3 separate regions of the Homo sapiens genome follow, and all the other regions are linked to region 1. Evidence: fine-mapped expression QTL. A gene starts in region 1. Each other region holds a variant in brackets. All regions are shown on one strand. Distances are from middle to middle.

The links.
Region 2: its variant is fine-mapped to the expression of CBX3 in whole blood (TOPMed, PIP 0.95).
Region 3: its variant is fine-mapped to the expression of CBX3 in subcutaneous fat (GTEx, PIP 0.97).

What each region holds. Positions count from the first base shown.
Region 1 is chr7:26,197,041-26,205,040 of GRCh38, forward strand. CBX3 (chromobox 3) reads left to right here and starts at 4,705. Exons shown (of 6, transcript NM_016587.4): 1 at 4,705-4,786; 2 at 5,931-5,982. The coding sequence starts at 5,959. HNRNPA2B1 (heterogeneous nuclear ribonucleoprotein A2/B1) reads right to left here and starts at 3,706. Exons shown (of 11, transcript NM_002137.4): 1 at 3,532-3,706; 2 at 582-692; 3 at 275-421. The coding sequence starts at 3,537. RefSeq lists enhancers at 2,148-3,121, 3,030-3,149, 3,122-4,094, 3,260-3,649 and a silencer at 4,590-5,409.
Region 2 is chr7:26,151,331-26,159,598 of GRCh38, forward strand. NFE2L3 (NFE2 like bZIP transcription factor 3) reads left to right here and starts at 868. Exons shown (of 4, transcript NM_004289.7): 1 at 868-1,738. The coding sequence starts at 1,169. RefSeq lists silencers at 657-1,036, 1,057-1,126, 1,137-1,206, 1,317-1,566, 1,577-1,646 and 1 more and enhancers at 828-1,622, 1,623-2,416, 1,767-1,956, 5,787-5,866, 6,067-6,116 and 2 more. The variant C/T (reference allele first, on the strand shown) is at 4,909.
Region 3 is chr7:26,352,807-26,361,074 of GRCh38, forward strand. SNX10 (sorting nexin 10) reads left to right here. Exons shown (of 7, transcript NM_013322.3): 3 at 8,169-8,255. Among named protein-coding and RNA genes, the nearest start is that of LINC02981, 42 kb to the right of the region's middle. The variant C/A (reference allele first, on the strand shown) is at 4,813.

The sequences.
Region 1 (8,000 bases):
TCATCCAAACAGAAAAAAACACAAGCATAATTCAAAGCACCCAACCGTAGTACCATACTTCGCTTGTATCCACCTTAAAACTACCAGATATAAAATAGCTTTTAGGGACCTAGCTTTTGAAAAATAAGCTAGCTTAAGAAAATGGTCCAGAAACCCAACACACCTTTAATAAGAGAAAAAATCTTGAGTTAAAACTAAATTCAGAAATAGTTTCTGATTTTCAGCAGGGCAGCGTTCTTCATGTTAATGCACAAGACAGTCATTGTTTGCTTACCTCTCTTGCTACAGCACGTTTTGGCTCAACTACTCTCCCATCAATTGAATGAGGTCTTGCAGCCATGGCAGCATCAACCTCAGCCATGGATGAAAAAGTTACAAAACCAAATCCTCTTGATCTTTTGCTTGCAGGATCCCTCATTACCTTTCAAACCAAAGGGTAAACTTTAGCATTTAATCTCATTATAGCTTATAAGTGAAGTCATAATAGAATTTTTTACTATGCTGATAGTTATTTCCTCCATGATTCACTTAACATACAGCTAAAAGACTAATATCCAGTAACAATTCAGTAATTTACATACCACACAGTCTGTAAGCTTTCCCCATTGTTCGTAGTAGTTCCTCAAACTTTCTTCTGTGGTTTCAAAGCTTAAGCCACCAATAAAGAGCTTACGGAACTGTTCCTTTTCTCTCTGCAAAGGAAAATACCATTTCAATTTTTATTTACATTTTCCTCTTTGTATGCAGGAAATTAAATTCTTAAATATGAGGTGACCTGCTGGCAGAGTACCTTTTTCCTCTCCAAAGGAACAGTTTCTAAAGTTTTCTGGGGGGAAAAAAAAAACTTACATCAAATTTAAACCATATGTTAAACTGCATATTAGTTGTGTTACACCAAAAAATTGCCTCAGCTGATCTACACAAGTTTCAAAGTCATTAATGCTTGATATAAATTTACTCAACATTAAATTATCTTAAATTATTAATTAAAAAAAAAACTTTCTAAGGAAAAATAAACAAATGTAGACCGTGATTATCAAAGGATTATTAAAGAATCTTTACCAAAAATTTCAACCCTACAACCTAAAAACGCAAATTTCTATTTTTAAACATCAGAAAATAACTCTTGGTTCATTACTTATGACCCAAAGTTTTTATTTCACTATTCAATATCTGAAAAGTATCATTTATTTTCCCTTAACTGCCCCCTCTGGTGGTGATTCTAAGTATCTCAGCCAAAAAAACACAACTTTTTACAACAAACACTAAGTTTCTCCATATGACTCTCAGTTACGAAAATATTTAAAGATATGCATTAGAAATAACCTTAAAAATTACTCTTATAACCAGGACAAATTAATTTTTATGACCAGCAGCACTCGAAGCTTAAAAAGTTTAATTTTTGGTGGACATGTCTATATTTGATATATGACAATACAGAATATGAATTACTCAGCTTAACCATATGTACAATAAAATACATTCACGTGGCATAATCTCTAAGATAACAATTACTGAAAGCTGAAGCTTACTTGATTGGCCATGTGGCAAGCGACAGGCACAAAACAATTTTCCAAGTCAATAGGAAAAACCTCAGAGCTGAAATCTTTATATGCTGTACTACACAGCTGTATTCTGGGCACTTATGAATGTTAAGGAAACCTGTCTTAAAAGTTAACTAGGTTAAAAAACCTCAAACGAGAGAAAGTGATATCCAGGACCAACTGCTACAAACGCATAATGCAAACTAAAAAGTCACACGTAATTTTCAATCAATTATTTTTTGTTCCTAGCAAGCAGCATTAATTGCTGCTCTCATCCCAGTTCTACGGAGCTCTCCCTCCATTCGCATGCTCCCAACTCCTAAAAAGTAGTGGTAAAACCCAGTTCAGATTTTTTTCCTGTAGTTTTCATGACTCGTAAAAATTAAAGAAAAAATTAACTGAAATGATCAAACTAGCTCCTATGAGACACAAAGCAGTCTTTTGAAATGGTTACTTGTCACGATAGTTATTTTCATTTTTTCAGCTAGTTTTTATTCTTAATTGTCGTCAGCACATAGGTTATCTCTAAACTGAAATTACGGATAATGTACATTTATAACAAGTTTTACAAATCACTAACAAAAAGCAAAAACTCATTACTTACCTCACAATTTATCCAAACTTACCCGATGTCCACTATCGATTTTAAACAATGTTATTTTATAAACGTGCTTAGGGTCAAAGAAAATAACCAGGTAGACCCCCTTCGCTTGAGACCTTATGCTTATCAATGTAATGTTCAACCAAGATTGCAAACAAAATGAGAAAAGTAACAAAGTTCAAATACAGAGCGGCCCAGGCCCAAAACAGTTTTGCACATCAATCCATACGCATTACAGGAAGGAGCCTCTGAAGCCATGTTTTAATCGAAGTATAACTAAGGACAAAATCGTTATTTCACTTTCCTCGTAATCATCTATAAAGGTCCATGGATCTGTCCCGTAAGGGTTAAACTTCTCAGTAACAACATTACTTAAAATGAGTCAGCTCTACAACTTAAACGGAATCCTTAAGAACAGTAAAGGATTCTGACGCGAATATCCCTCCCCCGCCCAGAAAACCACCTTCGTCCCTGCCCCTCGTGGCCGATGGCTTCCAATTTATGTTTATTTTGCCGCGGTTCATCTGTCGTTTTACTGACTGCAGACCCAGATAAAACCGTTACTCAAAGGAAAAAAAAGACAGGAAAAACATAAAATGGTTTCTTTGTCCTACGGCTCGCATTGAACCCGGCCCGACGCCCTGGGTGGTGATATCTTCTCTGAAACCGGGCCCGCAAACCCGGAGCACCCCCCCTCCCCGCTCTTCGGTGTGGCTTCCGAACGCAATGGCGCCATTTCATCGAGGGGAAGGCTGAGCGCCTTTAATGAGGTGCGCAGGACTCTAAAGATCCAAGCTCACAAAACACTCCAAATCCACCTCGAAACGATATGAAAACAGCCCGAGAAGAAAAAAAAATAGTTAACCACTTCTACTTCTTGATAGAGAAAGCACACTAAGAAAATAAAAGAGTTATAAGGAAAACGCTGAGAGGAAGGCGAGCCATGAAAATGGCGGCCGCCAAATCCGGTTCCCGGGAGAGAGGGGGAGGGGAAGCTCCGCAGCCTCGCTCACGAGGACCTGCTGCCCGCCGAAACGCTCGCCGAGGAGACGCCGTGGCCCCCGAAGCAGCGTGCTTTAGAAAGGGAATAAGAATTCCCGCCTCCGCGCCCCACTTTCACCCCAGCGGGGCAGCGTCCGCCATGTGAAAGCTCCCCATCCCCCACCCCCAGTGAAGGGAAATGGCGCCGGGAGGCTGAGGGTGGGGAAGCTGTTTGTACGCTCAGGCCTCCGCTCAAGACCCCGTTCATAAACCTTAAGCCCCACTGCTACTGAATTGGTCCGATTTCCTGCCTCTCTCCCACGGAGGCGGCTGGCCGACTTCCACTGAGGCGCCAACGGCCTCGCCATGCCCTTTTCAATAACTCATTGATTTCAAACCCGTTACCTCCATCGCGGACTCAGTCGCTTCAGCCCGATTTCCCGCAGCCGAGCGAGATGAGAGAGATCTCCGCGGACGAACACGAACCGGACTCGTCCTGGCGCTGTAGTGAGAACTGCCGCTGCTCGAGAAACAACTCTGCGAGGAGCACCTCCGCACGGGACCCGGCGCTGCTGCTACTGCCGCTAGAGCCGCTGCCGCCGCTTTTCTAGAACCTTCCCCCCCACTAACGCGTCTTCCGCTACGTCAGGCCGTCGCGTAAACGCCCTATCCGCCGCCAATGGCGGGAAGGCTCTACGCCCCACCTTACGCCAAATGCGTACTCCTCCCACCCTTGCGGCCAGAGACAGTACCCGACGTTACTTCCGTAAATGCGCTCAATGAATTGCGGAAGGCTAGAGTCCTGCTAGTTACTACCTCTTGGAATAGGGTCCCGCCCCCTGCCTTGGCGCAAGGCAGGTGAGAAACGGTCGCGCAGTTTGAAATTAACGCCGACGGGAGGGGCTTAATCCGCAGCCTGGAGATCCAGCCCCCTCAACCCGGGAGGTGGTCCCTGCAGTTACGCCAATGATAACCCCCGCCAGAAAAATCTTAGTAGCCTTCCCTTTTTGTTTTCCGTGCCCCAACTCGGCGGATTGACTCGGCCCCTTCCGGAAACACCCGAATCAACTTCTAGTCAAATTATTGTTCACGCCGCAATGACCCACCCCTGGCCCGCGTCTGTGGAACTGACCCCTGGTGTACAGGAGAGTTCGCTGCTGAAAGTGGTCCCAAAGGGGTACTAGTTTTTAAGCTCCCAACTCCCCCTCCCCCAGCGTCTGGAGGATTCCACACCCTCGCACCGCAGGGGCGAGGAAGTGGGCGGAGTCCGGTTTTGGCGCCAGCCGCTGAGGCTGCCAAGCAGAAAAGCCACCGCTGAGGAGACTCCGGTCACTGTCCTCGCCCCGCCTCCCCCTTCCCTCCCCTTGGGGACCACCGGGCGCCACGCCGCGAACGGTAAGTGCCGCGGTCGTCGGCGCCTCCGCCCTCCCCCTAGGGCCCCAATTCCCAGCGGGCGCGGCGCGCGGCCCCTCCCCCCGCCGGGCGCGCGCCCGCTGCCCCGCCCTTCGTGGCCGCCCGGCGTGGGCGGTGCCACCCCTCCCCCCGGCGGCCCCGCGCGCAGCTCCCGGCTCCCTCCCCCTTCGGATGTGGCTTGAGCTGTAGGCGCGGAGGGCCGGAGACGCTGCAGACCCGCGACCCGGAGCAGCTCGGAGGCGGTGAAGTCGGTGGCTTTCCTTCTCTCTAGCTCTCGCTCGCTGGTGGTGCTTCAGATGCCACACGCGTCCCGGGGGCCCGGTTCTCCGCTCCCCTCCCCTCCCCTTCTCGCCGGACCCCGCGCCGGGAGCTGCGGGAAGGAGTGGAGGGTCGGGCGGTGGCCTCGCGGCTGGCCTGGCGCGCGGCCAGCGCCGGTAGTTAGTGGGGGGACTGCTCTGCCCTCGAGGGGGTAGGGAGCTGTGGCGACGGTTGCCCCATTTCGAGACAAAGCGCATTTCCCCCTCCCCTCCCCCACCCGCGTTCCGGCGGAGGCGCCCCCTCCCCCAGCCGCCACGCGGGGCTGGGTCGAGACTTGGGCCTCCCGGAGGGCGGCGCGTGGTCCCGCGTCCGCGAGGCCTGGCGGCGCGCGGCCGGCTGTCCCGAGGCTGCGGCGACCGCCCAGTTAACGTGGCCGCCGCGGGGGTAGGCGCGTGCGGTGTGGCGCAGTGCCCTTGAGCCCCCGTGCCGCGGCCTTTGTTTCTCCCCGCGGATGCGCTGACCACGAGGCCCGCGCTCCCGGGTGGGGGCGGGCACCCGCGCTTAGGCCTCTGGACGCCGGGCTTCAGCGGCGGGGGTCGGGAGCGGGTGTTTGCAAGAGGTGATTCTTTTTTCAAAGTGTCACGAAACGGGGTTGAAGCATCTTAAGTTTTTTCCTTTTGTTATTTAATTACCGATTGGAAAGAGGGAGGGTTTCTGAGCAGAAACCAAGTTGGGATTGCAGAACAGAGAAGATTCACAGTGCTTTACCGTTGTGAGTTGTTTGGGTAATCGTGCCTGGTTTTAAACCGAAAGGATTGTCCTTTAAAAATGGAACATGGACTTTATTATAAATGGGACTTAGATTGGAAAAGACATTGGTCCCCTATTTTAAGCCATGTGAAGCTGTTTTAGGTACCAGGATCCCCAGTAAAGTCTTTCTAGACTCACATGGTTAGGACACGTACTTAAGTACATCATAAGCAATGTAGGTAGGAGCGCAGATCTACTCTGGATTTGTATTCACGTTTGAAATGTGCGCTCTCTACTTGGGGGTTGGAATCCAAACAGAATTTGTATTTAGTTACCTTTTTTGTGTCATGCAAACTTACCTTAACTGTCATGCATTTTTCTAGTAATAGCTCTTCAAGTCTGCAATAAAAAATGGCCTCCAACAAAACTACATTGGTAAGTTAATGAAAACCTAAAATATGTAAGGATTTAACTCAAGTTTTTTTTCCCCACAGTATAACTTTGCATCTCTGTGGCTGAGAAATTTACATCCACATATTTCCCAGCTCTCCCAGTGTAAATTACAGGGGAAAATTAAGAGAAAAACGAATTCATTACAGGGAGATACTGGCTTGGCTTAATAGTGTCTTAACTAGTTCAAAGAAGGCTAATCTTTGAAGGACAGTGCAATGTGGATTTTGCTGAGGATTTTTATCTTCAAATAGAAATACACACATTTTTGCAGCGTTGAAAAATGTTACATAAAATGGTAAAGCCCTTGTTGGTTGGCATAATTTTTCTTAAATCCCCAGAATTCTGGAGAAGTATTTTCATTAAAGCCCAATTTAAAGAACAAGGTACCTTGTGCACCTAGGTTGGAGCAAAAGTCATTGAATCTTTCAAATTACTTTGGTCACTTTATCTTGTTTTAACTTACTCTAAAACATAGAAGAATATTAAGTTTAATTCATTGCAGTGTTTTGTTTTTTAAACAAAATGATCGAAATCGCAAATATGAGCCAGAAGGGAGAAAAGGCTAGATTTTTTTTTTATCTTATTCAGCCATGTCATGTTACAAGTTTTTTTAAACCCTGGAATATTCACATAAAAATCATGAAATTCAAAGTTACAGTTTTCACAATATTTAACATTGCATTAATCTTAAACACGTAAAGGTGAATGTTAATGTCTCCTAGGTAAAATAAAGCATTTGTTTTTGGCTTGTATGTGCTCTCTCTGGGTTTCACACTAAAAAGGGCACGTTAGTGATTTTTAATTTGTGCCATCATTAGATTCTGCATTAAGTCTGTTTACCCTGCATTAGATTCTGCATTAGATTCTGTTTACCCTGGAAAACAGAAGTTGTTTTTGCACGCAATTGATAGCCTTTGGGGTCTGTTATTGTATTTAGTTTATTTTGTGAAGGATCACAGGTTGGCCACTTTAAAAGTTCTTAACTTTCCATTTTAAAAATTCATTAGTGTTGTGAGATATGTGTGCTGTTAATTTCACTTAAATAATGGGAAATTTATTTTGACTCATCCACTTTTGGAAAAAAGTGCTGGGTTAAGGCAAATATATACTATAAAAGAAAATAGTGAGCATTTGAAACTAGCTTATGAATGCCATAGTAGTGAATGAATACTGTATGGCATTTTGTCTGCCTTTTTTTTTTTGTAAACCTTAGTGTGTATCCTTTTCATTTTCTGTATTTATTGTTGACTTTATTTTGTTAGCCTTCTCCCTTTGTGGCAGTAGCTGTTTTGTTTTTCATGTAGTATAGGTATCTGATACACTTCTGTCTATTACAGTTTGTCTTTGCTCCTCCCACCATTATTCCTACCTTCTTGTACTGTACAGTGGCAGAAAGCTGTTTGGGCCCAGTACTCAAGTATCTTGACTAATGAGAATCATAACACCTGACTTAGAAATGGTATCCAAAAACGTCAGGTGTTTGCTGCATGTTTTTGTATTTCAGGGGATTTTTATTTTGTGTGTGTGTATGTGTTACCTATATGCTTGCATAGCTTGAAATGCCCTTTTGCAGTCTTGAGGCCTTTCTTACATATCTGTCTGCACACTTCATATGCCTGCATAGCTTGAAATGTCCTTCTGTAGCCTTGAGGTGTTCTTAACTTTTTTCTGCTTGCTGCTTTACTTGTGGGATGGCTTTAATGATTGAGCAATTAAGGTTTATCTTTTTTAAATAGTATTTGGGTTTTTTGTTTTTGTGTTTTTTTGAGACAGAGTTTTTCTCTTGTTGTCCAGGCTAGAGTGCAATGGCGTGATCTTGGCTCACCGCAACTTAAGCCTCCTGGGTTCAAGCAGTTCTCCTGCCTCAGCCTCCCAAGTAGCTGGGATTACAGGCATGCACCACTATGCCTGGCTAATTTTGTATTTTTAGTAGAAACGGGGTTTCTCCATGTTGGTCAGGCTGGTCTCAAACTCCTGACCTCAGATGATCTGCCCACCTC
Region 2 (8,268 bases), 46 kb before region 1:
GCAGGGAGCACTTCCTACCCATGCAGTGCTGTGGTCGGTGGTTTACATGCATTATCTCATTTGGGGCTCACAAAAGGTCTGCTGGGGAGGTGCTATTATTAGTCTCATTTTACAGTGAGAAAACTGAGGCACAGAGAAAAGGAGAGATTTGTCCAAGGTCGCCCCTCAAGTGGAGGGGGGACTTGAACTCACTCAGGGTAACTGTAGAGCTGGTGCTGTCAACCCTCAAGGAAACAACGGATAAGGAGCAAAGGATACCGAGAGGAGGTCTAGCACTATGCAGAGCACGCCCAGAGAAGAGAGAGGGGTCTGTGAGGCTGGGACTGGGGTGTGCGGAGTGGTGGGATGACTGATCCCAATGGCAACGGTGGAATTTATATGTGAAACTCCGAACTTTACACGAAATATTTCATCTGACCTCAACACATCCCTGTTTGACAGGCTCTATGATCCCCATTTTACAGATAGCGGAACTGAGACAGAGAGGTTACTCTTGCCCACTCTGCCCGCCAAGTGTCCTCACGTTGGGGTGGAAGCCCGTTGCAAGCTGCCAGGCCCCTCGTAGCTGCCCAGTCACTCTCCGCCCAGTCTACACATCCTGTCCCTTCCCACCCAGCTACCCACCACCTAGCCCTCCACCCCAACTCCCGCCCTTGGCTTTCAGCAAGGATGGCCCAGCTCACGGCCACAGGGTGGCAAGGGGCCACTTGGTGCCCAGAACAACTTCTGCTCCCAGAAAGCCTTGCGTTCCCCGGACATAAAGAGGCTTTGAGCTCGGGGAGCCCCGCCCCGTGCGGCCCCTCCCACGGGCGCGGGCCCCGGGCGGCAGGGGGCGTGTTCCTGTCGGCTGCGCCCGCGGCCGGGGGCGGAGCTTGGCCACCGCGCCGGGCTGCGGGCGGCTGGGCGAACGGGCTCGGCGCTCAGGTGGCTCCTTCTTCGCTTCTCCCGATCCCCGGCGGTGCCAGGCACGGTGCCGGCTGCCGAGGGAACGCCTTTGTGCCCGGTGCTGGGAACCCGCGACGGCCGCCACGCGCCCCGGTCCATTGTTTCGCTTATCTGGGTTCCAGGCAGGTGCGGGCGGCGCGCGGGGTCCGCACGTGTCACCCCGGCGGCTGGGGCGCCGGGACCCGCGGGCGCCGGCAGGGGCGTTCCCGGGCGCGCGGCGGCGATGAAGCACCTGAAGCGGTGGTGGTCGGCCGGCGGCGGCCTCCTGCACCTCACCCTCCTGCTGAGCTTGGCGGGGCTCCGCGTAGACCTAGATCTTTACCTGCTGCTGCCGCCGCCCACCCTGCTGCAGGACGAGCTGCTGTTCCTGGGCGGCCCGGCCAGCTCCGCCTACGCGCTCAGCCCCTTCTCGGCCTCGGGAGGGTGGGGGCGCGCGGGCCACTTGCACCCCAAGGGCCGGGAGCTGGACCCTGCCGCGCCGCCCGAGGGCCAGCTGCTCCGGGAGGTGCGCGCGCTCGGGGTCCCCTTCGTCCCTCGCACCAGCGTGGATGCATGGCTGGTGCACAGCGTGGCTGCCGGGAGCGCGGACGAGGCCCACGGGCTGCTCGGCGCCGCCGCCGCCTCGTCCACCGGAGGAGCCGGCGCCAGCGTGGACGGCGGCAGCCAGGCTGTGCAGGGGGGCGGCGGGGACCCCCGAGCGGCTCGGAGTGGCCCCTTGGACGCCGGGGAAGAGGAGAAGGCACCCGCGGAACCGACGGCTCAGGTGCCGGACGCTGGCGGATGTGCGAGCGAGGTAGGTGCAGAGCGGGAAGCGAGCGAAGTGCGGCGTCTACGCCGCCGGGAGCCCCCGAGGCTTGTGTCGGATCTGAGCAGGGGCCACTCTCGCTGTGTCCTGGCACCCTTAGCCCCTGGTCTTTGCAGGTTCGCAGATGCTGCTGCTCTGATTCCGAATGAAGGGCTACTAGTGCTGTCGCTGTGGTTTTTAGGTGTTTAAGGAAGAAGTGGACGAAATCATCCGTTTGGTTATAGAGAATACCTTTCCTTGTGTGTGATGGCTGGCAAGAGTAGTTCGGGGATGGGGAGGGGAGAAGCAATGCCCACTGTCTTCGCTCAGTACCTCATGTACACTGGGGTGTCGTTCTCTGGGACCCGTGCCCGACCTGGACGATGTGAAGGAGGCCGTGACCTCTGGGAGGATGCATGTTTTTAAGAACGACTCTCCCGGCCTAACGCAAGGACCTTCGCCCTGTTTTCAGCCCAATTGCTGTTCGTTTTTGCTGCTTCCCTGGATTAAGGAGCCATGGTCAGGGTCTATTCAGAGGCCAGCCGGCAGGCGGTCCCCCTGTGACCTAACCATCCCCTGCACCTAGCAATCCTCCTTCCTGGAATTTGTGTAACCTCTTATTAGCATAACGAAAACAGGTACCTTGGCAGTCACTTAGTGACTAACAAGTTCCCTTTGGTTTATGGGTCCAAACCCTTCTCTGGCTTAACTTCTTTCTGAAACCAAGTTTACCAAGATCTGTTGCTTGAAACATCTGGTGCTCCCCATGGAACGTTTGAGTTCAGTCTAATGACACTTTAACACCAGTTTCCACAAAACCACTTTACCCAAAGTTCCTTCCAGGGGACTTTTAAAATTCTGTCTTGGCTCAAACTTTAGTGTTTGCAACTGGTAACGATCAACCAGTGGTGATCAACTAATGTTCTTCGGGTGTTGTTTTTGTGGGGCGCATTCTTATGCAAAATGGGAATTGGGGCTAAACTGGTTTGTTTGTTGCTCTTCAGAATTGCCGTTTGTGTAGGCTGTTGCCAGACAAGCTTCTCCACCCTCCTGGAGGGGTCATTGTGTGGAAGTGCTCGGTGATTCACTGTTATGCTGATCTGAGCCCTTCCTCTTCCTGGGGACCGGAACCAATGGGGTGGGGGCCAGTGAGAGTCTTGGAGGGATCCTTCTGTGTTCAGGATATACTGTGGGAGGTTCTTCCCCACTCACTCATCCAATCTGGACCCCATGGGGTCTGTCTCACCTAAATGCTCTGCCCTCTAATAAGTGAGTACTTGTGCACTACCACCATTCCTGGTTCTGTAACACAGAGTTGAAACCTAGTGCTGGATGCTGTACCAGATGGCACTCTGCCACCCACACCCGAATGCCAACCTGTGTGCAAAGTGCACAGGGACCTGGAGGGAGAAGAGAGGAAGCTGTTCAGTCCTCGGAAACTTCCCTCCCGGCATCACCTGGGAGACAAAGTGGCCTTCCCTTGGCTGTTTTTTTGTTTGTTTTGTTTTAAAGACAGGGTCTTGCTCTGTTGCCCAGGCTGGAGTGCAAAGGTGCAATGACGACTCACTGCAGCCTCAACCTCCCCGGCTCCAGCAATCCTTCCACTTCAGTCTCCCAGGTAGCTAGGAGAACTGGCGTGCACCACCATACTGGCTGATTTTTTGTAGAGACAGGTCTCGCTATGTTGCCTAGGCTGGTCTCGAACTCCTTGGCTCAAGTACCCATCCCATCTCAGCCTCCCAAAGTGCTGGGTTTACAGGCATGAGCCACCATGGGTGGCCTAGACTGGCAGGCCTGCCTTGGAGGCATTTTTTGAGCCTAGGCCAGCCAAACCACTGTGGAGGCTCTGAATCCAGCTTTCCTAGGGGAGAGAGTGAAGTTCCCCGAGAACCATTCTCCTGGCAGTGCCTTCCTGGCTGGGCTGGCATGTGTGCACCATGTTCACTGCTGGGATGACCTGGTTACATTCAATCTGGCAAAAATCAGCTGTCCAGCTCCTTACAGTTGTCACGGCCAGTTCACTTTTGTTGCCTTTTACATCAACCTTGTGTGGTGCACTGGCCAGGCACCCTTATATACAATTTGTACTTAAGAAAAATAGGGCTGAGTGCGGTGGCTCACACCTGTTATCCCAGCACTTTGGGAGGCTGAGGCAGGCAGATCACTTGAGGTCAGGAGTTCGAGACCAGACTGGGCAACATGGTGAACCCCATCTTTACTAAAAATACAAAAATTACTTGGGCGTGATTACACATGCCCGTAGTCCCAGCTACTCGGGAGGCTGAGGCACGAGAATCACTTGAATCTGGGCGGCGGAGGTTGCAGTGAGCCGAGATTGTGCCACTGAACTCCAGCCTGGGTGACAGAGTGAGACTCTGTCTCAAAAAGAAAAAAAATGAAGAAGAAGAAGAAAACTAGAAGCCTAGGTTAGGGATTTGGCTAAAGCCACATGTCAGTGCCAAAAGAGAGACCAGAGCCTGAGTCTCTTGACTCTCAGACTGGCACATTAATTAAGTACCTACACGGTACTCAAGCTCTTGGGACATCTAGGACGTCTCAGTGCATCTGGGATGGGGTGACTCAGCCTTCCACTGCCCAGGCTAATCACTCTCCAGTGCTAGATTGTGCCATTCATAATGAAGAGGTTGCAATTTGGAACCATGACTTTGGGGAGAAAATGGGCTGGAAAAACAACACTGGTCTTTGCGGTCAGCTAGACCTGGGTTTGGGAGTATCACCTGCTAGTATGCCCTCCCATAAGCTGCTTGAATCACTCCAAGCTTCAGTGTCTCATGTCAAGTGGGAGAGGAATGTGTACTCCAGGGGGAGGTGTGCTGATTAAGTGGGAAAAGCCCATGGGAAGAGCAGCATGGTGCCTGGATTGTAGCTGCGCTCTTCTGCCCTCCGTCCTTAACCCACCCTCCTTCACCTGTCCCCACTCACTGGATTCCTTTTGGCTTGTCTGCATATCTAGTTTGGTTGGTTATTGAAGAAGTGGGGTATGCTAGACCCAGACTGCCTGGTTTTGAATCCCAGCTCTACCACGTCTGTGACCTTGGACAAGTTGCTTATCCTTTCTGTGCTTCATTCTGTGTGCATTCCCATGCACAATGGGAATCAGAAGGGGCTTACCTCAGAGGGTTGATGTGAGAATTAAAAAGTTCATTCCATGTAAAGGG[C/T]TTAGAACTTGCCTGTCACTTAAGTGCTTAGTTAGTAAATGTTAGCTACTGTTAACTTCAAAGAGACGAAGTGCTTTGTCCCATAGGAACATAATTTTTAATTTTAAAAAATAGATAATTCCGGTGGCTTACATTTGAGTTGCAGGAGTTTTATAGTATAATTTTCCATAATTTATGTACATATGCAAAAATATTTTGGAGTAGGGGATTTTCCAAGTATCAAAAGGAGTACTGTTTTGGTTTCACTTCTTACTGGGGCTTATCATGATCTGAAAACTGACTCTGGAATTCCCCAGGGCTGACACGCTTCCCTTCATAACCACAGTCATTCACAACGGATGAAGCATGCATTCTTCCAAGTAACACACAGGTTAAACAAAGAAATGAACAGTTTTTGTAGAATTGAATGTGTAAACGTATGGAACAGCTGCCTACAGCCAGCTTCAGTATTTCAGAGAGCTGTTGCCACTTTGAAACTGAGAGGGCTTGTAGTCATTTTGATGTGGTTTCCTATCCTGGTACAGAGACCCTCTGCTGGGTGAGGGGTCTGGTAAGACCTCTTGATTAACTGCCTGAAGAAACTGTTGGGCTGGGCCGGGTGTGGTGGCTCACACCTGTAATCCCAACACTTTGGGAGGCCGAGGCAGGAGGATTACGAGATCAAGACATCGAGACCATCCTAGCCAACACGGTGAAACCCCGTCTCTACTAAAAATACTAAAAATTAGCCGGGCACGGTGGCACGTGCCTGTAGTCCCAGCTACTCGGGAGCCTGAGGCAAGAGACTCGCTTGAACCTGGGAGGCGGAGGGTGCAGTGAGCCGAGATCGCTCTACTGCACTCCAGCCTGGGTGACAAAGCGAGACTCCATCTCAAAAGAAAAAAAAAGAAAAGAAACTGTTGGGCTGGTTTCTTCAGGGCACAGAGAGAATCTGATCCAGTCAATATTTAATTTTTTTTGGGACAGGGTCACTTTGCCTCCCAGGCTGGAGTATAGTAGTACCATCACAGCTCACTGCTACCTCAACCTCCTGGACTCAAACAATTCTCCCACCTCAGCCTCCCAAGTAGCTGGGACTACAGACGCGCACCACTGCTTCTGGCTGATTTTTTTTTTTTTTAATAGAAATAAGGTCTCTCTGTGTTGCCCAGGCTGGTCTCAAACTCCTGGGCTCAAGTACAGGCATGAGCTACTGCACCTGGCCTCAATATTTAATTCTAAGAGTAAAGGAAAGAGAAAGAAGGTCCTTGATTGTTAAAGTAAAAATTGTTTTTCATTTCAGAATAAAAAATAGTCCCTAACTCCTGGGCAATTGGACAAGAGATGAAATTTCAGACATTTGCCTGTTTTTAACTCACAGCTATGTTACGGAAATAGTCTTATAATTACATACATTGCGTTTATGACAAGCGTTCACAGTGGGATTTTCATTTTGTTTACTAAAGGAAGTTGTAAAGGTGCACTATTGTCTTTGTATGGGAAAGGATGTCATAAGTTACTGTATGAATTTGCTAGGGCTGCCATAACAAATACCACAGACTGGGTGGCTTAAACAGAAATTTATTCTCTAACAGTTCTGGAGGCAAGAAGTCCAAGATCAAGGTGTCAGCAGATTGGCCCTTCTGCGGGCTGTGAGGGAGAAAGTGTTCTACAGCTCTCTCCTGCCTTTTGGTGGTTTGCTGGCAATCTTTGGCATTCCTTGGTTTCTTCTCCATCACCTGAGCTCTGCCTTCATCTTCACATGGCATTCTCCCTATGTGCATGTCTGTATCCAAATTTCCCTTTTTTGTTGTTGGGGTTTTTTTGTTTTGTTTTGTTTTTTATTTTTGAGATGGAATCTTGCTCTGTCTCCCAGGCTGGAATTCAATGGCGCAATCTCGGCTCACTGCAACCTCTGCCTCCCAGGATCGAGCGATTCTCCTGCCTCAGCCTCCCAAGTAGCTGAGATTACAGGCGCCTGCCACCACGCCCAGCTAATTTTTTAATTTTTGTAGAGACGAGGGTTTTGCCATGTTACCCAGGCTGGCCAGATTTCCCTTTTTATAAGGACATCATTGGATAAGGGTCTACCTTCCTTCCTATCTTAACTTACCTAGTTACATCTGCAATGGACCCAGTTTCCAAAGTATGGGGGTTAGGAGTTCAACATGAATTTTGGGGACACAGTTCAATCTATAACAATCACCATCTTCCTTCCATCAATTCTTGGGGTGTTCAGCTTGCTTATGATTAAAAGCTAACTGAGCTGTTTCTGAAAGCAGCTGGTCTATATGGAGGATCATTTGCATAGGACTTGGTGTGTGCTCCTGAGAAAATCTGGGGTTTTGCTGGCTTGATGTGCAACCCTGAGGAAGCTTGGCTCAAACCATCTTTTTCCAGTCAGTATTTCCCCTCCATTAGTAGGTTACAGAGAAATCATCTTTGCCAAGTCTCTTGTATCATTCTCCTTCTTTCCATGACCCCTACTTCTCAACCCACACAGTGGGAAATGAGCATGCAGGGCCCAAGCCCTGACTTGAGGCAGGCTGGTCTAGGGGTCTTGTGTGCTGGCCCTGGAGTCAGACCAGCTGGGGAAGATCCCAGTGCCACACTGGCTGTGTGATCTGGGGCACACTTCTTAAGTGCTCTGAGCCTTGGTTCCCTTATCCGTAAAATGGAATAGTAAGAGCACCTTAGGGAAGTGGTGGTGAGGATTGAATGAGATAGTGCAAGTTGAGCAGGGTTGATACACTATTAATAATTCAGGTGGGGCTTGTACCGCTTCTTCCCCAATTTACTCCCGTCCATTGTGTTGTCAGGTGCAGGTTTCCAAAGCACACCTTGGTTCGTCTCTCTGCGTTTTGTGGGATGCCTCCTCTAGCTCGCCATTGCCTACTTATTCAGTATTTTGTCATTCAGGGCTGCCCTTGTGGCTTATGTGACCCAGCCCCCAGCTGCTCTTGCTGGGCCTCTCCATGTAGCCTTCTTTCCAGGAGAAAACTTTCTTCATCCCTTTGCCCAACAACCCTATGATCTCCTGCCCTTTAGTCTGTTCTTACCTTTGCCCGGAATGCCTTCCTTTCATTCCTCTCAAGTCTTTTATGGTTAAATTCTCAAACTCAGCTCAACCATCACCTCATCCATAAAACATTTCCTGTTCTTCCCTTTGAGCCCTATTGCACTCTGTAACATTTCTTCTATAGGACTTGGCATCCTCTCCTTTGAACTGCAGTGGCTGGAATGTGGAGACTGGGTCTTGGCTTTCACCTGAAATAGCACCCAGGGACAGGGTTAGGAGCAGAGGTCAGTTCAGCCAGTGTCTGTCTGTTGAGCACTTATCATTCATGACATTGTGTTTGCAGAACTTCAAAGATACCATGG
Region 3 (8,268 bases), 160 kb after region 1:
TAAGGACCACACATTGCATTTGGTTGATACATTGTTTAAAGTCTTTAATTCTCTCTTTTCCCCCTTTTGCAATTTATTTGTGGAAGAAATTGCATCTTTTGCCTTATGGAGGTTTTCACATTCTAGATTTTGCTGATTGCATCCTTGTGGATGCCAATTATTTCTTACTGCAGAAGAGGAGGTTTTTTTTTTCTGCACTTTTCCTGATGTGTTACAAGATATGAAAAGGTAACTCGCTGATTTGGGATACTACTTGTGTAAAGAAACTTGCAACATTGTGAGCTATTATAAGTCATGTAAAAGGCAGGTCTAGCTAAATCTCATTCACAGTTGTTTATCCTGAAGTAATAAAAGCTTCTCAAAAAATCATCATTCAGTACCACCAGAGGATGGTATTTAAACATACTCCATGCTGTAGAGTGGCAAGTAATATCCCTTGTCATATGTCTCTTAAGTTATTTGTTACAGCTGTTATTAGGAAATAAAGAAAGGTTGCTTGATATATTCCTTTTGCCCTTCTATTTTGTTATTTGTAAAGAATATAGTATATGAAATGTGCTAGATTTTAGTTGTGAAATTGTTATATGGGGGTCCTGAATAGCACTCTGGTGATTAACACACTGGTAAATGCTTTTTTTTTTTTTTTTTTTTTTTGGTGGGGAGACAGAGTCTTGGTCTGTCGGCCAGGCTGGAGTGCAGTGGCACGATCTCAGTTGCTCACTGCAACCTCCGCCTCCCAGACTCACGCAATTCTCCTGCCTCAGCCTCCCGAGTAGCTGGGATTACAAGTGTGTGCCACCACACCTGGCTAATTTTTGTATTTTTAGCAGAGACGGGGTTTCACCATGTTGGCCAGGCTGTTCTCAAACTCCTCACCTCAGGTAATCTGCCTGCCTTGGCCTCCCAAAGTGCTGGGATTATAGGCTTGAGCCACCACGCCCAGCCCACACTGGTAAATTCTATAATCATTAGTTGTATGGAAAAGTACCTAGCGCATTGTTGTTGCACAATATATTTTAAGTGAATGAATGAGTCTCCAGTGTAAATACATGAACATGTAAAACACTACTTTGAAATAGGAAAAAAAATGTCCCAAGAAAAAGAACAAACTGAGACAAGTTTACATTTTTATGTTAGAAAATTCTCATCAAAGCTATGAAAAATTAGTATTCACTTAACACCTAGACATTCTGCTTTATTAGCTTTCGTCTTTTGTGATCTTTCTGTAATCTAAGTAAATATTTTTACAGTTAACACCTACTCATCTTTACTGTGCTACAAAGATTCAAACTAAGCTATGATGGAAAATTTTAAAAAACACACCTATCACAATGGCTAAAATAAAAAATAGTGATAATCCCCCTGGAAACTGTAATAGGTATGTATGATATATCATTGTAGGGTTAATTGTATTTCCCTAGTGGTTAACGATGTCGAACATCTTTCTACGTGCTTGTTTGCCATCTGTATGCCCTATTTGGGTGAAATGTCTCTTCATATCTTTTGCTTGTTTTCTAATTGAATTCTATTTTTTAAATAAGAGTAAGTGAATGAGTGTTTTGAGACAGGGTCTCTCTTGTTGAGGCTGGAGTGCAGTGGTGTGATCTCAGCTCACTGCAACCTCCCACCCACCCACCAGGCTCAAGCAATCCTCCCACCTCAGCTTCCTGAGTAGCTGGGACTACAAGTGTGAGCCAGTACACTCAGCTAATTTTTAATTAGTTTTTAAATGTTTGTTTAAATGTTTGTTTAATTAGTTTTTAAATGTTTCACCATGTTTCCCAGGCTGGTCTTGAACTCCTGAGCTCAAGTGATCCTCCCACCTTGGCCTCCCAAAGTGCTGGGATTACAGGAGAGAGCCACCTCACCCGTCTGATAGTTTTGTTTTTTTTTAAAATATATTCTAGATGCAAGTCCTTTATGGGATGTGTAGTTTGCAAATATTTCTTCAATCTTTAATTTGCCCTTTTAACCTTATTCACGGCATCTTTTGCAAAGCAAAGATTTTTAGTTTGGTGAAGCCTAATTGATCACTTTTTCCTTATGTGGATTGCCCTTTTGAGATAAGTTGAAGAACTCTTCTCCTAGTCCTAGGCCGAAAGATTTTCTTTGATTTTTTTTTTTTCTAAAAGTTTTTCTAAAAGTTTTCTCTGATGTTTTGTGTTTGACATTTACATCTGTGGTTTGGTTGGTGTTGATTTTTGTATAAGGTGCACGCTTTAGGTTGAGGTTCATCTCTTGGCCTGTGGATGTCCAGTTGTTCCATAATCATTTGTTGAGAGGCTTTTCCTTCTCCTTTGAATTGTTTTTGCACCTTTGTCAAAAATCAGGTGGGCGTATTTGTGTAGGTCTCCCTCTGGGTTTTCTGTTCTCTTTCACTGATCTTCTGTGTCTATCCCTCTCTAGGACTCCATTGTCTTGCTGCTGTAGCCTTAACATTGGGAAGAAGGCTTCCTCCCACTTTATTCTTTTTCAAAAATTTTTTGGCTATTCTAAGACATTTCCCTTTCCATATAAATTTTAGAATAAGCCCATCTATGTCTTCAAAAAAAGTCTTGCTGAGATTTTTTATAGGAATTGTGTTAAACCTACAGATCAATTTGGGGAGAATTTCTCTCTTTACTATGTTGCGTCTTCCAATTTATGAACATAGTGTGTCTCTGCTTTGATTCCTTTCAATAGCATCTTAGATTTTCAGCATAGAGGACCTCTGCTTTTTAAAAAATCTTGTCAATCAGTTGGTTAATTCTGAAACATTTAATATGCACTTACTATGTGCTAGTACCATGCTTGGTGCTAGAAATACAAAAATGAAATACAAAGCTTTAAGAAGCCAGAAGGACAGAGTTTGAGAAGAGCATGTTGTCTGAACTGGCATTTTAGCTAATAAAAGCAGAAAAAACTTCCCCCTCCAAAACAATACAATTACAGTGAAATTGGAAATTGCCTAATATTTATTATTAGTAAAAGAATCACGAGATAGAACATGTTTGAGAGTACAGTCTTTGGAACAAGGCAGATCTGAGTTTGAAACTTAGCTCAGGCTGGTCATTTGACTTTGGGCCAGTTGCTTAAGCTTTAGAAGCCTCATTTAAAAAATCTGTAAAGTAGGATGAGAATATACTGAGCTCTGAGGGTTGTTGTAAAGATTGAAGAAAACATTTGTGAAACGGTATAATGCCTGCCACATGTCAAGTGCCCTGGTATAATACAATACAGTTATTTTTATTATTAGTTTCATCTCACTTAAGGGCTAAGGAAAAAAATGATAGGGTAGAAGTGGATAATGGTCAAACCTGGGGTGTGGGGATGGGGGAAAAACAGGGAACATTGAAATCAAAGGCTGATTATTATAGGATAACACAGGAATTAGATCTTCAAAGAGTCTAGGAGTCTTTCTTTAGAAGTCTGTTTTCACATGGAGAACAGCAGGGACAGTTAGTCTAAATTTTTAATTCCACTCTGCCTGGCTTTCTCATACTACATATAGTCATTAGGCCCAAGAAGTCATTAAAGTGTTTAATAAGGTTATTAAATTGACTAACTGCAGCTGCTGAAGCAATTTTCCTAGGAAATCCATATGATTCTAGGTAAGGGGCTGTGGAACTGTCCTCTGTGGCTGACAGCCTGTCAACATTCCTTTGAAGGATGGCGGGCAGTGTCGTGAGGGATGCGTCTAATTAAGAGATTAGAGGTGAACCTTGGCTTCCTGGGTGTGCTATTTGTAGCTGAGAGTATGGGGAAACTTCACTAATTCCTACTAATTGCAGAGTGGGGGAGGAGGAGACCCATGTGAATTATAGAATATTTTAAAATAAATGTACTTTTATTACTTTCAAGTACATATTTTAACTCCCACTAGGCCAACAAATTGTTGCCTGGTACAAGTCTTAGGGGACTAAGTTACTGAAGCTATCAGAAGGATTTTCAATTATTTCTATGTAAATAGGTGCTTCTGGAGTTCTTTAGGGTGCTAGAAAACAGTTTGTTCTCCCAGATCTTAAACATTGCTCTTGGATCCTTATGCTGTTAATTGGCACATCCTTAGAGGAAGGGGTTTGTTAAATTAAGATAAACTTAGACCAGCTGCTAAATAACTTATCATTAATTCATGGAGCCCAAGAACCCAAGTAGATGAGGTTTTAATTTCAAGTGAAGTTTGATTTTCCTTTCCTGAAGGCAGTTTGTTTATTCCTACAGGCATTTATTTATTCATTAAATGATACTAATGGAAGGCATTGGATGTATGAGGCATTCAAGTCTTACAAGACAGCCTAAGCTGCCCTACAGGAGCTTAGCGTCTGCTAGAGGAGGCCTACAGGTAATTACAATACAGCACAGTAGGATGTGGTGAGTAGGGACTATGCCCAAGGCAATCCCAGAGACATTAGGGGCCCAGAGGAGGGTCAAATAAGTCATACTGGGTGAATCTGAGAAGGGTTCCCAGAAAAAGTGGTGACCGAGTTGCATTTGAAAAATGAATTGGAGTTGGCAAAAAATAGTAGAAGAAAAGAGAAGATTAAAAAAAAAAAAAAAAAAAGGCAGTAGGGTGGCCTAGCAATCCAGGCAGAGAACAGCTTAGTTAAAGGCATGGAAGTGTGAAGTGGCATGTTGCTTATGGGGACCTATGCTTAGCCTTTGAAGATAAGCAGAGTGAAAATCATGAAAGGCTGTATTGTGCTAGCTGAGGAGTTTGAACTTGAAGGTTATGGGGCAACCTTTGAAGGATTTTCAGAAGGAAAGCAACATCATCAGATACGTGTTTTGGAGCCATTCTTGTCTTCATGTGGGGAATGCACTGGATATGGGCCC[C/A]GAAATAAATTAGCAGTTCTTGCATTAATGTTGGGCAAGAGGTCCTTGAACCAAGGCAGTAGCAGAGGGAATAGTTGTCAGTGGTTCCAAGGAGAATGACTATGAAGGACTTGGTCTGTGTGGATTTGGGGAATGAGTCAAACAGAGGGGTCTAGGAGAACTGGGTTTCTAGCTGGGGTTGGTGGGAGATGCTCTTCACTGAGAAGGGGAGCAGGATGCTGTGGGAAGGGTATGGACATGGCGTGCTCAAGGGACTTCTAGGTGGATCAGGCTAGAGGCTGGATCCATGGGAGAGGTGCCTGCACTGGGATGGAGCTTTGGGTGGGGTCCATCAGCTCATGGGAGGGGGTTGAATGTGTTTGGATGAGGTCACCCTAGAATTGCAATAGTGTGCAAAGAACAACAGCCTGGGTTGGCTCTCAGGCACAGAAACGTTTCAGGATGCAGAGAGGGAAGAAGTTTGCCATCCACAAGAGAATAGTGATATTTAGCACTCCAACCAAATTAAAGATTTTCAGGATTGAAACAATATGTGGAGTCTTAGTGCTGCAATGAATTTTGAGTGTGCATTTAAAAGTTTAAGAGACACACACACATACACGGTGACAAGAGATGGAGGTGAAAAGCATAGGCCAAGAGCAGAGTACCTGGATTTTTGCTTCTGTTTCCATCCCTGGGCAGAATCTGCTTTATCACACTGTGATTAGGGGATATTATGGATATTTGGTTTAAAAATGGTTTTTAAATCCCTCTTATAATTTAGAATGTGCTTTTAAGAAATGATGGTTGTCTCTTAATGCGCATGAAAAAAATAAAGAAATAGAGAAGAAGAAATACTGGCTGGGGCACAGTGGCTCATGCCTATAATCCCAGCACTTTGGGAGGCTGAGGCAGGGGTGTTGCTTGAGCCTAGGAGTTCAGAATCAGCCTGGGCAACATAGCAAGACCCCATCTCTAAAAAAATTAAAAAATTAGCTGGGCATGGTGGCACCCGCCTGTAGTCCAGCTACTGGGGGCGGGGTTGGCTAAGGTAGGAGGATCATTTTAGCCCTGGAGTTTGAGGCTGCAGTGAGCTGAGATCGTACCACTGCACTCCAGTCTGGGTGACAGAGTGAGACCCTATCTCAAAAAACAGAAAAAAGAAAAGAAATAATGGCCAAAGAGCATCACTATAGTGTTATCTTGTGTTTTTTTTTTTTTTTTTTTGACCAAGTCTTGCTGTTGTTGGCCCGGGCTGGAGTGCATTTAGTGGCGTGATCTTGCTGCAACCTCCGCCTCCTGGGTTCCAGCAATTTTCCTGCCTCAGCCTCCTGAGTAGCTGAGATTACAGGCGCCCAACACCATGCCCAGCTAATTTTTGTATTTTTAGTAGAGATGGGGTTTCACTATGTTGGCCAGGCTGGTCTCGAACACCCGACCTCTGGTGATCCACCCGCCTCAGCCTCCCAAAGTGCTGGGATTACAGGTGTGAGCCCTGCCTATCTTGTTCTTATTCTATCCCCTAAATGATTTTAAAAATACACAATGAAAATATTTTAAAAGAAGACTTTTTGGAACAGTAATTCATAATCCCTGTCTACTAAAGACAAGTAGTGGGACAGAAGTCTCCAGTGCAAGGACAAAGTGTTGCCCTAGAAGGTGAAACTTGATAGGGGCAAAAGTTATTTTCAGAGTGTGGTGTATTTTTTTGATTAAAAAAAATCCTCTATGATGAAGAGTCTCATTTAATTATCTGCATGATTCAATGGAGGTGCTTTGTCCAGAAAGCCCCCGATCTCTCTTTTTCTTCTGCTCTCAAGCGTTCATAGCCTGCCTCTCAGATGTGCCCCAACAAGCAATAAGAAATGCCTGAATTCCAGCATTGAACTCCCAATCTTATCAAAAAGCTCTAATATTTAAAATCAAACTCAGTTAGCAAGTTTATGATCACTGAGTAAATAAGTTATACTTAAAAACTTATGTGAAACATGATAGTTTTTTGCTGTACATTTTCAAATTTTTAAACTAAACCTATTTAGTAAAGAGCACCTGTTAAAAAGTATTGTTTTAATTTTTTTTTTTTTTGAGACGGAGACTTGCTCTGTCGCCAGGCTGGAGTGCAGTGATGCGATCTCGGCTCACTGCAACCACCGCTTCCTGAGTTAAAGCGATTCTCCTGCCTCACAAGTAGCTGGGACTACAGGCACACGCCACCACGCCCAGCTGATTTTTGTAGTTTTAGTAGAGACAGTGTTTCACCATGTTGGCCAGGATGGGCTCAATCTCTTGACCTTGTGATCTGCCCGCCTCGGCCTCCCAAAGTGCTGGGATTACAGGCGTAAGCCACTGCGCCCGGCCTATTGTTTTAAATTTTGCCCCATGTTTTCTATTCTTATTATCTTTATAAAAGAACAAAATTATCTACTGTATATGATTTTTAATATCCCTAACTTCTATGTATAACACAAAGGTATTATGAAGATGAAATGATTTAATGTAGGGGAAATGTATTTTAAAAATAGAAAAGTATTATGTAAAAGAAGGTGTTCCTCTTTCTATTAATAAGTTATTATCGCTTATTCTCATGTGGCTGGGATGCATGCACAAAGTCAACTTCAACCCTCTTTGCTTACTTTTCCCATGAGCTTTGGTGTCCTTTCTTTTTCTTCTTTTGATACAGGGTCTCGCTCTTTTGCCCAGGCTGGAGTGCAGTGGCACAATCAAGGCTCACTGTAGCCTTGACCTCCTGGGCTCAAGTGATCCACCCTCCTCAGCCTCCTGAGTAGCTGGGACTACAGGCATGCACCACACTGCGCCTGGCTAATTTTGTATTTTTTGTAGAGATGGGGTTTCACCATGTTGCCTAGGCTGGTCTCAAACTCCTGGGCTCAAGAGATCCTTCCAAAGTGCTGGGATTACAGGTGTGAGCCACCCTGCTTGGCCTGGTGCCTTTCTTATTTGTGTCCTAGGAAGCACCTTACCCAGAAGGGCCCATTGTTTCAGTTTAGAGAGATGAAGAAAGTAAGAAATGATCACTTTTTAAATTTGAAAAAAACCTGAACCAATTATTTAAGATTAAAAATTAAAAATCAGTTTTACAGTATACTTTGTCTTCAGATAACCAGTAAAACTATCCAGAAGTGCTCCCACCTCAGTGTTGCATTATTTTAAAAATTCCATTATGTGGCAAAAGTGTGTTCTAGATTTGCTCGTGGTGCCTGATTCATTAACTTTACTTCTTGTTTTTTAAAGGATTACAAGTACCACATTGGTTAAAGCTCATTTCAGTTTTGTTTTAGTGCAGTCGTTTTGTTCAGTTCTTTCCAGTCCTACTTGCAGTTCTGAAGAATATTTCTTTGTTTATGATGCCATTACAGGAATTTGTAAGTGTCTGGGTTCGAGATCCTAGGATTCAGAAGGAGGACTTCTGGCATTCTTACATTGACTATGAGATATGTATTCATGTAAGTATGTAGT